2 separate regions of the Homo sapiens genome follow, and region 2 is linked to region 1. The links come from fine-mapping of genetic effects on gene expression. Tissue or cell type: whole blood. Region 1 holds a variant in brackets; the other region holds the start of a gene. All regions are shown on one strand. Distances are between the middles of the regions.

What was found. PIP is the estimated chance that this variant, and not a neighbour inherited with it, causes the effect.
Region 2: it holds the start of LOXL1-AS1, and the variant in region 1 is fine-mapped to the expression of LOXL1-AS1 in whole blood (TOPMed, PIP above 0.99).

The regions. Positions count from the first base shown.
Region 1 is chr15:73,886,586-73,894,685 of GRCh38, forward strand. TBC1D21 (TBC1 domain family member 21) reads left to right here. Exons shown (of 11, transcript NM_153356.3): 8 at 1-27; 9 at 1,035-1,151; 10 at 1,845-1,928; 11 at 2,484-2,629. The coding sequence ends at 2,516. Among named protein-coding and RNA genes, the nearest start is that of TBC1D21, 17 kb to the left of the region's middle. RefSeq lists a silencer at 528-786. The variant C/T (reference allele first, on the strand shown) is at 4,465.
Region 2 is chr15:73,924,121-73,932,220 of GRCh38, forward strand. It overlaps LOXL1-AS1 (LOXL1 antisense RNA 1), which reads right to left and starts at 4,128. Exons shown (of 3, transcript NR_040069.1): 1 at 3,945-4,128. LOXL1 (lysyl oxidase like 1) reads left to right here and starts at 2,342. Exons shown (of 7, transcript NM_005576.4): 1 at 2,342-3,765. The coding sequence starts at 2,664. RefSeq lists enhancers at 2,848-3,681, 3,682-4,515 and silencers at 3,590-3,709, 3,800-3,849.

The DNA of each region.
Region 1 (8,100 bases):
TTCGATGATGTCTGGAGGCTCTGGGAGGTGAGGTGTCCAGCTAGGGATCATCAGGCTGGGCTCCACCCATCAGGCAGAGTGGAAGCTGCAAGTCTTCCTTGCCTCCCCCTTTCTTCCTGGCTTGGATGGAGTTCAGTATCTCGGGGTTTTGTTAGGTCAGCAACCCTGCTCCCACCTTGCTGGAGGAAGCTGGAGCATCACTTTGTCCATATGTTCATTTAACACAAAGGCCCCACTGACTGTGCCTTCTGCTAGCAGTTGACACAGGAGGGCCCTATGGCCTGTGCAGTGGGAGCCTGGGCCTGCAGCTCCACTTCCCCGCTGCCCTGCCCAGGTGGCCTCCCCACGCTTTCACTTCCCCAGCTGTCCCCCCAACCCTGGCCTTCCCCTTCCCCAGAGTGCTGCTCCTGTGGAACTCTCTCACAGAAGGTGGGTCCCTAAGGACACCTGTAGTCCTGTGACCACAATCCTCAGGGCCATCAGCAGATGAACCCTCTGAGGAATGCCACCCCCACCCATCAATGCCCTGCCCATGGCCACCGCTGCCTGCAGTGTCCAGCCCAACCATCCACCTGGCATGTAGGGCCCCACAGATCTATTCCCACCTGCCTCTTGGCTGGCTGGTCTCCATGCCCAAGTCCATGACCACACCCAGGCCTTTGGTGACATCCTTGGGTCATTTAATTCCCATCAACCCTTGCTTGCCAAAACCCCACTCAAATTCGACAGTTTCCTAGTGTCTTCCCACCCCTCATTGCCTCCCTCCCCTTCCTCTATCTAATGAATTCCCTGAAGCCTCTATCTCTGAAACCCCCAGGAGACAGCACAATGCCTAGAACCAGGAGTACCTGTGAGCACATGCCTGAGTGAGTGGATGAGTGAGTGAGTGAATGAAGGAATGATTGAATGAGCAAGTCAGCAGCAAGGCCCAGGAATGGCTGACTCCAGGCACGTGGTTGGTGGGTACCTCACCATCCTCAGGGCATCTGCAGTCTCAGACCACAGGGCCCAGACTGAGACGTCCTGACCCACAGGTTCTGCTGACGGGGAAGCCCTGCAGGAACTTCCAGGTGCTGGTGGCCTACAGCATGCTGCAGATGGTGCGGGAGCAGGTGCTGCAGGAAAGCATGGGCGGGGATGACATCCTCCTGGTGAGAGCACCCTCGGGCAAGCTACCACCCCTGCTCCTGGAGGCCCTGACACCCCACCCCACCCCAGCTGAAAGACCGGGGTTCATGGGGTGCTGGGCACCAGTGCCACCTTTTCCCCCCAGACAGAAAGGGCAATGAGATCTAAGGTACGGATTACCGTGCCAAGGGCTTTTAATAGAGCTTGTTTAAGCCTCACCACAAGCTTGACACAGGGAGGCTATAACCATCATCATCACCCCTAGTTAACACATGAGGAAATGGAGGCCTTGAACACTCCCTAACTATTAAGCTCTACCATCTCGCAGTTAACCCTGTGGCCCTAGGATATTGCTGAAACAGAAGGACCTAGAGTTTTCCACCATTTTAAAAAAGCTACTGAAGTCTTTGTTGGAAGAAACAAATCTTAGGTGACACCCTAATTATAAACCAAGTCCTCCTTCAAAGCCCCTAAGACACTTGGTGGAGCCCCAGGACTCCTAGAGCCTAACATGAAAGCTAACATTTACCATTGCCCCAAAATATCAAATTTTAGGCATTGAGCCAAGCAGGCTGGGGAGAGGTCAGGTGGTCCCCAGCGACTGCTGTGAGCAGCATCCTTCTTCCCTGGGTGCTGCAGGCAGCTGCATGTGCCCAAGAGTGCTGGGAGATGTTTGCCCCAGCCCCACCCACAACTGCTCCCACACTCCCATGCAGGCCTGCAACAACCTCATCGACCTTGATGCTGATGAGCTGATCTCTGCCGCCTGCGTGGTTTATGCTGAGCTCATCCAGAAGGATGTAAGTTGCCCCAATGATGTGTCCTCCTCCTCCTCTTCCTCCTCCTCCTCTTCCTCCTCCTCCTCCTCTTCCTCCTCCTCCTCCTCCTCCTCTTCTTCCTCCTCCTCCTCTTCTTCCTCCTCCTCTTCTTCTTCCTCCTCCTCTTCTTCCTCCTCCTCTTCCTCCTCCTCCTCTTCCTCCTCGTACTCCTCCTCTTCTTCCTTCTCCTCCTCCTCTTCTTCCTCCTCCTCCTCCTCCTCATCAGAGCCTATCCTGATCTCCCAAACGCAGCCCATGGCAGGTGCATTCAACTTCAGAGACACAGACTGTGCCACGTTCTCTACCACTGACCCATGCATGTTGCTCCTCATGGTCTTCTCGTTGTTTGCACATGTAGCTCCTTCCTCCCTGAGCAGGCTGTACTACTTGAGAGCAGGGCCCTCATCCCCCATTCCCTGTGTCCATCCCAGTGGGTCTGGGCACCCAGAGGCTCAGGAGAATGTCGCTGCTTAGAAGAACCGAAGAATGAAAGGGACAGACCAATGTCTGTGCACCTCCCACCTGCCTCCTCCCTAGGTTCCTCAGACATTAAAGGATTTCTTCCTCTGAGGACACCAAAGCCCGCAGTGGACTGATGCCTTCGATGGGCAGGATGAAGGCCAGGGGCACTGGAGTGAGGGAGTAGATAAAACAGCTGCAATATAAACAGTCCTCTGGAATAATGGTTTGTGGTGGATGCTATGTCTTTGACCTTAGGGGCTGGGACGCACATGAGGGCTGAGACAGGGTCGTACGATAGGAAGAGAGGCTGGCTGGCTGAGAGACACATTCTGAGACTAGGGAGGGTGCTTGCTGGAAGAGACTGGGTCAGTGGCTCCTCCTTGATGGAGGGTTTTCCAAGGCTGCGGTGGATCCATATCTGGATACAAATGGTTAGAGTAGAACCAGCTCTGAAAGGCTTCCAGACCCCTGTGGAGGACAAAACTGAGCACATTTAATAAGGATTAGTTCATCTGGACTTAGGTCCTGAGAGGAAGGCTGGTCCTGGGGCTCTGCCCCCACCCCCACTGCTCCCCTGAGTCCTGTCACATCAATCACACAATTAAGTCATTTTTTCCAGAGATTTCCTGCTAGTCTGTGGAAGGGGCTGGCCTGGAAGAACTATCTGATGAGCAGGCAATTCCCTTCCTGGTTTCAAAGCCTCCCTCATAATTGTGCCTTCATTTATCAGCCTGCAAATGTGTCCTCAAGCTACATTTTATTTTCCAGTCTTGATCAATCTTTCTTGAGAATGCACTCTTTGCCCTTGGCCAGGCAGTCAGTTGCTCTGTGAGGAAAAGGTGCATCACACCTGCTCCCCCAGGCTGTGCCACAGCCCTGAGCCCCTGTCCAGCCTGCCCCATGCTCTAGCTGGCCCCTCTGAGGGAAGACATGTAGATGGGCCAGAAAGGCTGAAACTGCAGAAGGGTTGGGGCTGGCTGGGTGCCCCCAGAGCTGCTCAGCAACACACATACATACACACATACACACACACACGAATGCACACACATACACACTGCCCTGCCCAGTGACTACAAGTTTTCAGGAGGGCTGACATTACACATGGGCAGGAGGGATCCCTTGCTTTTGCTGTGAACTGGTCCTTAGAGGTAAGGCATGGCCATCCCTCTCACTCTTCAGCCAACTGTCCCTCCCTCTGCTCCCATCCTGGCACTCTTAGTGACCATCACTCCAAAGCCATTATGTCCCCAATGAGTGCTTGGTCTCCTTCCCCTCAGGCGACAGTCTCCCATCCAGGACCAGCTCTGAGTCTCTTAGCTGCTGTATCTTTGCTGGAAGGTTGAGGGGGAATGCTGAAGAATGAGGGCCTGTCCCCCCAGCAACACCTTCTCTGCATGGCTAAAGAGCTCATGTTTGCTGGGCAGGGAGGCACATGGGTCAATTCATATACTACACTTCTCCTTTGCTTTTATGTTCCTAAGGCAGTTTATTTAAATAAGTGTTCCCGCATGAAAGACAGTTCTCCAAGGATGAAACTGTGTTTGCATTTTGCCAGAGAGGCAGAGAACAAGAGTAAAAGACATCTTGCTGAGCTAGTTTTGGCCTTGGGAAGAGAACAATCAATAGAAACATCAGATGAACATTTTCTAATGCTTCTTTTAGACTGGTGACTTCAGATGGCCGATTATTTTTGGTTGGGACCTACACACAATGCCAAACATCTATTTCAAAACAAACATTTAAGAACTCATCTTCTAGACCACTTGCTGTCAAATCTGTTGTTAAAAGCACTGGAGCCCCTTTATTACACAGTCCTTCCCAGGAGCCCAGCGGATGAAGTTTGGGTGCAGATCCCAGAGCCCTCTCCCCCGACCACCCCTCTCAAGCCCCCCTCCTTGAACCTCACATCATTTCCTGTGTTATCTGCAAGGAGCCTCTTGTCTACTAGGGTGCATATTTGAAAACCTGTTAGGTCTTAAGGACGAGGTGGATTCAATCTTGACACCAAATTGATCCAGATTCAGATAAATCCCAGGTGATGGAGTGATGAAAGTAA[C/T]AATCTTGGAAGAGTGGAGCTTCTCTCAGCTCATCTGCAGTACTCCCAGCCCAGCAGACTGTAGATTAGGATCTTCCCACCATGCTGCTATGCAGGTCCTTAAAAATAACACTGGGCTGTATAATTCATTCATTTATTCCCCCTTCTCTGGCTCACTTAGTTTATCATTTATACAGCCCAGTGTTGTTTTTCTCTAGTAGGGTCCATTCTGGAGATAGAACTACAGGAAGCATTGAAATCCTAGAGCCTAAGTTTGTGTTATGACAGTCTAGTTTATTTCAGCATGCATTTATTCAGTACTGTCTTAGACCATTTGGACTGCTCTAATGATGGCAGTGGCAGCCCATCTGGAGCAGCCACTGCCATGATGCCAGCTGCAGTGGGGGAGGCGCAGTGAGGGCTGCATGCTCCATGGAGCCAGTGGGAGCCAGAAACAGGCAGGAGCCCCGCCCCCTTCCAAGTTGGAGGGGTGGGAGCCCCACCCTCCCTGGCACAGCTGCAGCCACCCTGCCATGGCTGTGGACCCAGGCATCTCTGCACTCTTGGGGGCCCTTGAAACCCCCATGCCCTCACAGGCTCAGAACTGCCTGCTCCCACTGCCTGGCCTCTCCCCACTCCTGGTGCCCACTCTGATTTCGGAGCAAAGCTGTGGCTGAGACCAGGTGCTGTCACAACCCGGCCAGGTGTGCTCACACCTGGGGCAGCACTTACACACCAGCCCCATGCCTTCTTGGCCCCCCTCTGGACTTTGGGCACCGACAAGCATGGAAGAGAGGCTGAGGGGGTGGGTGCTAAGGATGGCTCGGCATGGGCCTTCAGGCACCCCTCATCATGAACAGCCTGGGCACCGTGGATGGCAGGTTAATGACAGCAGGAGGCAGGCAGATCCTGGGTGGAAAGGGGCAGATCCTGGTGAACCCCACCTTCAGGCCAGGGACAGTCTGAGGACTAGGGGCCAGGCTGCCAGTTCCACAGACTGGAGTGACAACCTATGGGGCTTTTTCTGGGTCTGCCCATGGCCACCCATGGACAAATCAGCATGCACTTCCTCCCCTCTGAAGCCCATAAAAATCCCCAGACTCAGCCAGCCTCAGGCAGACTACCGGATGACCTGTCTGTGGAGAGGAGCTACTCAGGGCGGGTCTCCTCCGAGCTGTTCTGTTGCTCAATAAAGCAACTCTTTGCCTTGCTCACCCTCCACTTGTCCACATACCTCATTCTTCCTGGATGTGGGACAAAACTTGAGACCCACCGAATGGCAGGGTTGAAAGAGCTATAACACAAAGAGGGCTGAAACCCACCCCTTGCTTGCCATGTTGCAGGTGACAGGAAGGAGAGAAGAGAGGAGAGAAGAGCTATAGCCTTTTGGGGATCCCAGACCTAGGAGCTCCCCAAGCCAGGGCTGTGACATCGTCTTTGGGGCTCTGTGGTTCTTGGTGTCTCCAAGCTTCCATGCACCGCTGCGTTCCCTTGTGCCAGCCATGGATGCTGTTTGTGGTACTCCTGGTCCAGCTGCAGCCAGCACCCATACCAGCATCTGGAGCTGCCCCTCCCACCACAGCTGGCATGCTTGGCTGTCTGTGTGCAGTGGCCAGACCCCACACTCATTCGTTCACACACACTTCAACACTCCATGTCTGGCTCTCCCTTGGCAAGTGTGGGCTCCAGGCCAATAGTGCGAGCCGAATGCCTGCCAGGCTGAGTGGGCAAACAAGCCCAGTAGGCCCGAGCAAAACTCAGGCAAAGGCGTCACTGTCCACACAGGTTTCAAGCTGGAAAGGAATACCTCAAGAATTCCATGACAATAACACAATAATGTCAGTGATGATGGCGGTGATGGTGATGGTGATGTCGGCGACGTCAGTGATGGTGGTAGTAATGTCAGTGATGGTGGTGAAGCTAATTATATGGCGGTGTTGGTGGCAGAGGTGTGATGTCATTTATGATGGTGGAGGTGGTAGTGATGGTGACATCAGTGGCAGAGGTGATATAGAATCTGGTGGTGGTAATGATGTCATCACTGGTGGTGGTGATGATAGTGCTGACTTTTCATTCTGCCAACAAAAACTGACTGTCTCTAATGGTACTCCTTAAATAGTGCCAGAGGAAAAGATGAGATTCAAGGAAGGGACTGAAGGGGATTGCAGTGGGGAGGGCTCTGATATTGATGATGGTGTTGGTGGTGAGGGCAATCATGGTGGAGATGAAAACAGTGACTAATTCATTCTGAAAAAACTAGTGCCCAGCACACTTCCAATGAGCAAGGCCTAGACATAATATCTTTAAATGAATCACCGTGGCCATGAGCATAAAGAAAATGGAAGCAGCCAGGCCCCATCCAAGCTTTCCAAAACTTGGTCCTGAGCCAGATATGAAAGCTTGGATTGGATTGGCTGCATTTCTTCCAAGCTCTCACCCTCACCTCTCTTTCACTCTTCTTCTAAGCCTCTTCCCTGGAGAATTCATTCATTTATTCCTTCTTCTCTGGCTACATTGAATGACCCCAAGGCCACTTTTTGTTCCTGGAGTTAGGATAATAGCTCTCTACCCACTAACAACTGCACAGAGGCACCGTGGATAAAACTCCAAGTTCTCTGGGCCCCAGGGTCTGTGTTACCCCCCTCAGAGAGGAAGAAAGAAGGTGGGCTTTTGCACCTACCCTCAGGCTTGCCAGCAGAACCGAGTCCTGGCCTGAAGCCACCAGACCTTTGGTCAGTGGGGAGGAAGGGATACTCCCTCCTTTCAGGAGGAAGAACATAGCTACTAGGAAGGGCCTCCACTGCCCAGGACCCAACCCCAAAGGACAGCTGGTGGGCTGGAGCTTCAGGAGGTCACGAACAAGGGCACGTGACCCCTACCCTCACAATTATACAGAAGCTGTACTAATTGGGTAATTAATATGTTCCACGCCTTGTGCTAAGCACTCGCATGCTTTATCTAACAGAATCAGAATTCTGATTCTGATTTCACCCTCATGACTGAATTCAAACTCAGAAACAGGTGCAGTCATTACCCTCTCATTACCAGCGAGGAACCTGAGGCACTGGGTTACACAGCTAGTGATTTGCCAAGTCCGGATGTGAATGCTGATGGGCGAACCCCAGGGCCCCACTGTTATGCCATGGTATTGGCTCTTGGGCAGCTTCCGTTTTCACCTCTTTCCCTGCCCACAGCCTCACTTGGCGTCTGCCATCCTCCCGCAGCCCACACTGAGTCTCCTGTCTGGTCCTCTGCAGAGCAGGCCCTCATCTCACAGGCCACCCCACCCTTGGCAGCTGAAGCCCCACCGATGGGCCGAGATGGTCCAGGGCTGGATGACAGGGGTGGTGTGTGCAGGAAGCTCTGTCCTACTTCCCTCGTCCCTCTCTATGCCTTCGATTACCCCAGTAAGTGTGGGAGGGCCCAGATGCAGCCATGTTTACTGCATCTTGTTTTGAAACAAAGCTCTGAACATTCCTTGTGCATTCCTTCTCCAGGATGGGGAGTGGGCTGGGGGTCTGGGGTTGCAGGAAGTCAGTCTGCAGGGGTGAGTGTGGGGACCCAAGATGGGGCTGGCAGGTCCCGCATGGAAGCAGCAGCAGCAAAGCCTGGGCAGCTGGGGTGGGCCAAGTGTTGTGAGGGGAGAGGCGCGCAGCT
Region 2 (8,100 bases), 38 kb after region 1:
AATAGTGGCCACATGTCTGGCTCTGTGCTGGGGACTTTTCATAATCCTCTCATTCCATCCTCTCAAATATGCCACAAGAAAGGTATGATTACCCCCAGGTCACAGACGGGACTCTGAAGCTCTGAGAGCTTAAAAAGCTTCCCCGGGGAGTGGCTGGGCCAGGCCAGGTCCCTAGCTCAAGTCATGGTGTGGACCCCCAGGTCTCCATCTCAGCAGGGATGGCTGGCAGGAGCGCAGTCCTGGCCAGGGGAGTCTGTGCAGAGGCCCAGGCTATGTTCAGAGCAGAGTTTATTCAAATAGAGCCTAACAGGAAACTTGGCTCCTCTGACTCACTCTGATTCGACCTTATTAAGAAAAAAAGAGAGAGGAGCAGGAGCCAGCATCGGGTAAGGTTTCACGCCAAGAGCTGGCTCTGAGGCCCGCTGAGTGGAATGGCATGTGCCCTGATCCCCCCACATCCAAAGCCTTGAGGCAGCCCCTGCCCTGCTGTCCGAGTCAAGGCGAGGGGTCCTGCCTTCACGTTAGGGCAACTGAGTTCCCTTCCTCACAGCCATCCTCTGTCCTCCCTCCACTCCTCTTCCCTTCCCTCCCTGCCTAGGGGTACCCTGAGGCCTGTTTCCATTTCTCCCCCTCCTCTGCTGCAGCAGCTGCCCATCTGGCTGGCGGGAGGGCCCTACAGGACCCCAGGGATTCCAAGCAGCTGAGGCCAACACTGCAGGGGGCAAGCAGGAGGGAGGGAAGGCTTAACCCTCCAGGTCCCGGCCCTCAGTAAGCCCTGCCTCAGCATCTTGCTTGGTGTCAGTCACACCAGTGGCTCTTTGGAGGAATCTTGTCTGGAGTCTGAGATGGAAACCCCATGCTGGGGAGCTGAGGTGTCAGCGTTGACAAGTTGCTGGCCAGGAGGTATTGGAAGCCCCCTACCTCTGGGCTGGATTCTGGGCATTTAAAGGGTAGAGACATGCTGGAGTCCAAGCCTCAGTCCTGAAGAACAGTGCAATGGGTGAACAAATGCTGCCTGGCAAGGATGGGGTTGGGAGGTCTATAGTTCCCAAAGAATGTCCACTCTAGTTGCCTCCTCTCTAGGTGGGCTCCAGGCATTTCCAAAATAAAGAATATACAGGAGCCAAATTAAGGACAGGTCCTTCATACCTTGTTTATAAGCCCAAGAGGGCAATTTCTGCCCTTCGGTTCCCAGGAACACGGTTGGAGAAGGCAGCCCAGGGGAGGCCAGAAGAGCAGTATTTGGAGTGTGATTTCTTGGATGCCAAAGCGTTCAAACTTCTGGGACCCCCTCCTATCCCTGCCATTCCCAGAAGGAACAGAGAATCTCCCAAAGCACTCTCAGGAGCCATCTGGCCTAATCTTCCATTGGTAAGCCGTGGCACCTGGATCAGATAGAGTAAGGGACTAAGCCACACAGCAACAGGACCAGGCCAGGTCTCCGGAACCCCCTTCTGTTGTTCAATGCTTACTGGCTTCTCTGCCTCACAGTGACCCCTGTCCCATATCAAAGACAGCCCCCAGTTTCATTTTATCCATGTGTACACTCAAGTTATTCCCAGGCTATGCAGAGCCAAGAGATGTAGGACAGAAACCATACGTGATGTCTGGGAAGTTGATCTCTCCCAGGATCTCACAAGTGCTTTTCAGCTCAGGGATACACCCCACTCTTCAGACTGGGAAAGTAAGCCCCTGAGGTGTGCCACGAGGGAAAAGGTGCAGCTCCAGTGCCTCTCTTCGCAGGCCCAAGAGCTGCGGTGCACCTGGGACCTGGAATTAGAGAGTGGTCCCTGTTCAGCATCTCCCCGAGGAGGCCCACCAACAAAGAGGGTGTGTCTTTTTTTTTTTTTTCTTCCTATTGAGGGTGTGGGATAATGGTGGAAGGAACATGCAAAGAGGGTGTGTCTTAATTAGCACTGGCTTTAGGGAACAAGGAAAAGGGAGAACCCGGGAGTACGGGAAGGAGGCTGGGGCAGACAGGAGTCAGAGGCCCATTCCAGCCCAAACGAGAAGCCAGTGAGCAAGGTGGAGACCAGGGATGCTGTGACCAAAGCAGAGAGGAATGGGCGGGGTGGTGCTGACACCCCAGCCCCGTTCTGCCTGCCAGAGCCCCACTTACCAGGCCCGAGTCCCCAGAGGTCCCCTCCTACTCCCTGCTCGATTCCCTTCCTCAGAGGCAGGTCTGTGGCTTGGCTGGGAACTCCAGGGACTGAGGGAGCACTGCAGCTGTGGGACCGGCGCATAGCTAAAAGCCGGCGGGCCATAGGGCCCCGCGGAGGAGGCCCCAGCAGGCGGACCAGGAGGCCGAAGCCTCCCGACGCTCCCAGCCTGTTGCTTATTCATTCAGAGTGGGAAAGCGCCAGCCGAGCGGCCAGCCAGTGCGGGGCTGGCCATGTAAGGCCCACAGGCGGTCCTGCCCGCCCGGTGCCCTGCGGAGAGCCTCGTGCAGCCCTGGGCACCGCCCCTGCCCTGCCCTGACCCCTTGGCCTTGAAATGCTGTCATCGGAGGAGCCGTCCCGCTCGGGACAAGGCCAGCATGGACAAAGCTAGAGCTGGGGCAAGCAAGGAGCCTTCCTGTCCTCGAGGCCGTGGGAAGAGAAGCACGCCCAGGGGGCCACTCCTGAGAGCCTCTCTGTCCACCAGGCCTCTGCAGAGGGGTCACCATGGCTCTGGCCCGAGGCAGCCGGCAGCTGGGGGCCCTGGTGTGGGGCGCCTGCCTGTGCGTGCTGGTGCACGGGCAGCAGGCGCAGCCCGGGCAGGGCTCGGACCCCGCCCGCTGGCGGCAGCTGATCCAGTGGGAGAACAACGGGCAGGTGTACAGCTTGCTCAACTCGGGCTCAGAGTACGTGCCGGCCGGACCTCAGCGCTCCGAGAGTAGCTCCCGGGTGCTGCTGGCCGGCGCGCCCCAGGCCCAGCAGCGGCGCAGCCACGGGAGCCCCCGGCGTCGGCAGGCGCCGTCCCTGCCCCTGCCGGGGCGCGTGGGCTCGGACACCGTGCGCGGCCAGGCGCGGCACCCATTCGGCTTTGGCCAGGTGCCCGACAACTGGCGCGAGGTGGCCGTCGGGGACAGCACGGGCATGGCCCGGGCCCGCACCTCCGTCTCCCAGCAACGGCACGGGGGCTCCGCCTCCTCGGTCTCGGCTTCGGCCTTCGCCAGCACCTACCGCCAGCAGCCCTCCTACCCGCAGCAGTTCCCCTACCCGCAGGCGCCCTTCGTCAGCCAGTACGAGAACTACGACCCCGCGTCGCGGACCTACGACCAGGGTTTCGTGTACTACCGGCCCGCGGGCGGCGGCGTGGGCGCGGGGGCGGCGGCCGTGGCCTCGGCGGGGGTCATCTACCCCTACCAGCCCCGGGCGCGCTACGAGGAGTACGGCGGCGGCGAAGAGCTGCCCGAGTACCCGCCTCAGGGCTTCTACCCGGCCCCCGAGAGGCCCTACGTGCCGCCGCCGCCGCCGCCCCCCGACGGCCTGGACCGCCGCTACTCGCACAGTCTGTACAGCGAGGGCACCCCCGGCTTCGAGCAGGCCTACCCTGACCCCGGTCCCGAGGCGGCGCAGGCCCATGGCGGAGACCCACGCCTGGGCTGGTACCCGCCCTACGCCAACCCGCCGCCCGAGGCGTACGGGCCGCCGCGCGCGCTGGAGCCGCCCTACCTGCCGGTGCGCAGCTCCGACACGCCCCCGCCGGGTGGGGAGCGGAACGGCGCGCAGCAGGGCCGCCTCAGCGTGGGCAGCGTGTACCGGCCCAACCAGAACGGCCGCGGTGAGTACGGCCCCGGCGCCCCTCCGGCCGCGCGTACCCCTGGCCACTGGAAACTGCTCCGGGCCCCCCGGGCCCCTCCTTAGAACTTCCTGGAGGCCTCCCCGGAGCTGCTAAGCACGGAGCAGCGCCCCCTCCCGACTTCCCCCGACCCAGCCAACAGCACCCCCCTGGCATCTCACCTCCCAGCTTAACCCGCACCCAGGCATCATCAGTGCCAGGGGTTGGCCAGGCAGGTGTGGGCTCTGATCCTGGCTTTGGTGGAGGGACTAGCCGAGCTTTGGGAGGAGGCTCGCCTTCTGCACTTGGCTTGGGTCATCTGAGGACAAAAGGAAGGAGCCCCTCATCCACCTTCTCCCTCATTTCAATGAGGGCATCTCCTTCCCCCCTTAGAGATGTTCTATGCCAGCTCACAGGGTGAGGCAAGGAGCATCAGAAACCTGAGTCTTCAGGGCCAGAAAGGCCTTAAGGGATGCCCCTGGAGGTGTGGCAGGCTGCCCATTACTGGGCATGTGTGAGGTTGGCTTGAGTGCGCAGGAGGTTAGAGGGGAGCGTGTGCTCCAGGCAGGAGTCCGGACTTCCTCAGGGGAGTCTGCAAGGCTGGGGCAAGAGAGACCAGTCAGGCACTGGCCTGGGTGCAGAATTTCAGGGGCTACCAAAAAACACAGTAGTTGAGATGAGTAATATTGAGATGTATTTTTTTAAGTCAAAATTAATGCAAAAAAAAAAAAAAAAAAAAAAAACCTGTGATAAAGGAAATATCCAGATTTTAAATAGAGTCAGTAATAGTGGTATGCCGAGCCATATTGGAGCCTGAGGCTAACTGAAAAATCAGCAACACGGATCCTGTCTTTATTTGATATTTGGATATTTTGTTCATTACAGATAGTTTTGCATTAATTTTTATTTTAAAAACTATTGTGTTAAATATTACTTATCTCCGTTACTGAGTTTTTTTGGCACCCCCTAAAATTTTGCACCCCGAGGAAAAAAAAAAAAAAACACCTCACTGGCCTCATTCCCCTCACCCTAGTCCTGGCCCTGGCGGAGAGCCCCAGCTGTGGACAGGACTCCCTCTGGCTTTTCAGGGGGTGAACATACGTCCTCCTCTTGGGAAGGCCCAAGCCCTCTGCACATGAGGACACAGTGGAAAGGCAGCTTCCACACATGCTGTTAGCAGACAGGGCTACTGTGACAAGGGCTGACTGGTGGGTGTGGCCAGTGCTGGACGGCCATCAGCCATTCTCTGCTGTCCTAGAATCCCCCTCCCTGCTACCCTCTCCATACAGGCAGCTTTTGGGCCAAGGTTTTCTACTCAGTCCCCAATACTTATGCAGTCCAACTCTGCCTTGCCTCTTTCAAGCTGTCGTCAGTTTCCTCTACCCATAATTCTCTGCTCCCCATTGAGGTTGCTGTGCCTGGCCCACCAAGTAAGGGCTGACTGAGCCCTCCAGTGCCTCAGAGTATAGGTGCTAGTGCCCCAGCCTCCTCCTCAGCCTCTGTCAGCAGAGGGATGATGCTTTGTCTCCAGCCAAGCTGACCTCAGTGAGGGGCTGCTGCTCATGGGGTGCCTGTCTCCCTGGGTACTGCTGGAGGCCAAGACTAGGGGAGAGGAGCGTCTCCACTGGGAACACTCACTCTATCACATCCAAGGTGTCGCTTTTGAGTTGTGTGCTGAATCCCACTTTAAGAACCTGCAGGAGCTCAGGAAAAATCAGATGGCAGGTCCTTCTGTGGTGTGATGAAGGATGCATCCACCTGCTCTGGTCCTTACCAGGTACTTGCAGCATCCCTGCAGAAGGGCGCATTATAGCCATGCATCAGCTGCTCTAGGGCCCCTTGGAGAATAGGATGTTTTACCTAGAGGGTGCTAAACTTTTGCAGTGGCTTTTCTTAGAATGCAAGACCTCAGCATGAGGCTCAGCCTGATGGGCCCCACCTCTGGGCAGAGAAAACTGAGCTCTCAAATGCCACAATATTGGCAGAGGCATGCCTGGGACTTGGCATCTGGGCACCAAGTCAGTGGGTCTTCTAGGGCCTGTCTTTGGGCTGTTAGTTCTTAAGGAAGCCAGTTGATTGAGAGGGGAATGGGACAGGGCAAGGCCATGTCTGAAGTGGGGGTGCTTGGTGCTTAGCAGACCTCTGGCCACTACCCTGAGCCCCACAGTTCATTTTGGGTCAAAAACATTTCTCCCCTGAAGGTAGCATCCTAGGTGCCAAGCTGAGTGTACTCACATGCATCAAGTCCAGGCCCTTCCCTGGGGCAGTCTACCAGGAGGGGCATCTCAGTGCTGTGATTAGGCAAGCATTGGTGGGGCCAGGGGCTTTGTGAGCCCAGAGGAGGGCCCTCCCTGTCAGGGGCTAGGGCTCAGGGAGACTTCCACAGGAAGCAATGTCTAAGCATTGCTGCAAGGGATGGTCATCAGCACCATCCAGGTGCCCCTTCCCCTAATCATTGAGGGTGTGGGGTGGGAGTGTGTTTTTTGCTGGGGAGGGGATTGCAGGCTAGTTTAGGGCTCACAAAGAGGCCAGAGAGGGAGCAGTAGTCTCTCCCATCATTGGTTCCTCCCTCCCCACCCTGCTAGGCCAGACCGTGGAAAATCCCAGCCCAGGGAAGGCCAAGCCTTGTGCTTGAGATCAGACCCCCAGGCCTGGTGTGGGAGCCCAAGGCGGATTCTCCGAGACTGACTTCATTCCTCCTGGCCACACACCCAGGGGTCTGAGGCTGGGCGCTGGCAGCCTGTGAGTGTGTGTGGGCGTGGACGTGTCCTCACAACACCAAGCACATGTGAGCACCACCCACCTCCCTCCATGGGTGGGTGGTTTCCAAGCGCCTGTCCTGAGCCCAGTTTCTTCCTCGGGTACCTGTGCCCTCTTCCTTCCTACCCTGGGCACTGAGACTGCCCAAGGCTTCCTGCAGTACCATTCTCTCCAACTCTGAAACATGAAACTGAAAAGAAACTAGAGGAAACAGAGGCCCAGAGAGGGTCACATACTTTGCCTGGCTCTCATAGCAAATCCTTGAAGAGAGGCCTGGAGGGTGGCCAGCCACTTCCCAGGCCCAGCTGGGTCTCCTGCACTGTGTCGGCTCCCTCGATGTGACCACTCCTGCTATTACCAACCAGGCCCTCCTCTCCTGGGATCCTCGCCTCAGCTCCTGCCTCCCTGGAGTTTCAGCTTGTCTGAGCTGGGGGTCTTAGTGCCACCTAAGAAGCCCCACAGCCCCAGAAGACCAAAGCTCCCCTCCCAAGGCCTTACCCTCGCACCCCCCGCCTGACTCACCGGCTCTGGCAATCCTGTGAAAGGAACATGGAACAGGCAGCCCTGGGCATCCTCCCAGGGCATCTTGGATGGCTGTGCTAGCCTTGCCTGACGTGTGTCCTCTATCCCTGACTTCACATGGCCAATCAGAGGCCAGGAGAGAACCGCAGCTGCCTCCTCCCTGGTCCCTTGCTCCCAGTCTCTCCCTCTTCAGTCTGTCCTGCATGTGGGGCAGATAAACCCCTGCAGTCTGACCAGGTTACTCCTCTGCTCAAGAAGATTCTGTAGCTCCTCAGGGCCTTTAGGACAAAATCTAGTGTCTCAGCCCAGCACTCCAGAGTTAGAGGCACCTCCTTCCTGTCCTTTCTTCCTCCTTTTCTCAAGCCTCCACAGCCCCCATGGGACCATGCTGCTCGTGGGCCTAGATGTTACACCTCCCTAGACACATGCAAGGGTGTTTCTAGGGTACCTCCTTCTCTGTCCAGCCTCCTGCACCCAAGAGGCCAGACCTGTCTGGACCCTCAGTCCCTGAGAGCAGCCCTGGCTGCCTGCTACCACCTCTCCTGCCTGAGCCCCTAGCTCACCTGGGCCTGCTCCACCCCACCTCCACAGGCTGCCTGCCCACCTCTGCCCTCCAGGTCACTCGCCTTCCCCTGCAGAGTTTGGAGTAGATGCAGGGAAGGACCAAAGCAGGCTTCACCCAACAAGCTTCCAGAGTTAGAGCCCAGAGGCAGGGATAATAATACCAACTTGGCCATTTGCTGAAGACCACTTCCTGGGCTTACTGACTTCAATGTGCAGTTTCATTCATCCTCACAACCTCCTAATGAGGTGCAGATTATGGTCCTCCTGGTGTAGATGAGAAAACAGGCCTAGGGAGGTGGCACAGAAGGGTACAGCCGAGCTTGAATTCAAACTGAACCTGTGCTCTCTGCATCACAGTGAGATGACCCAGGAGGATATCATGTTCAGCCTGCGGGCAGGGTGGGGCAGGGCATGAGCATGGACCCCTCTGCCAGCTTTGCCTCTGTGGTCCTCACCTCCCACATCTGCATCCAGAGGAAGAATTATGCTTGC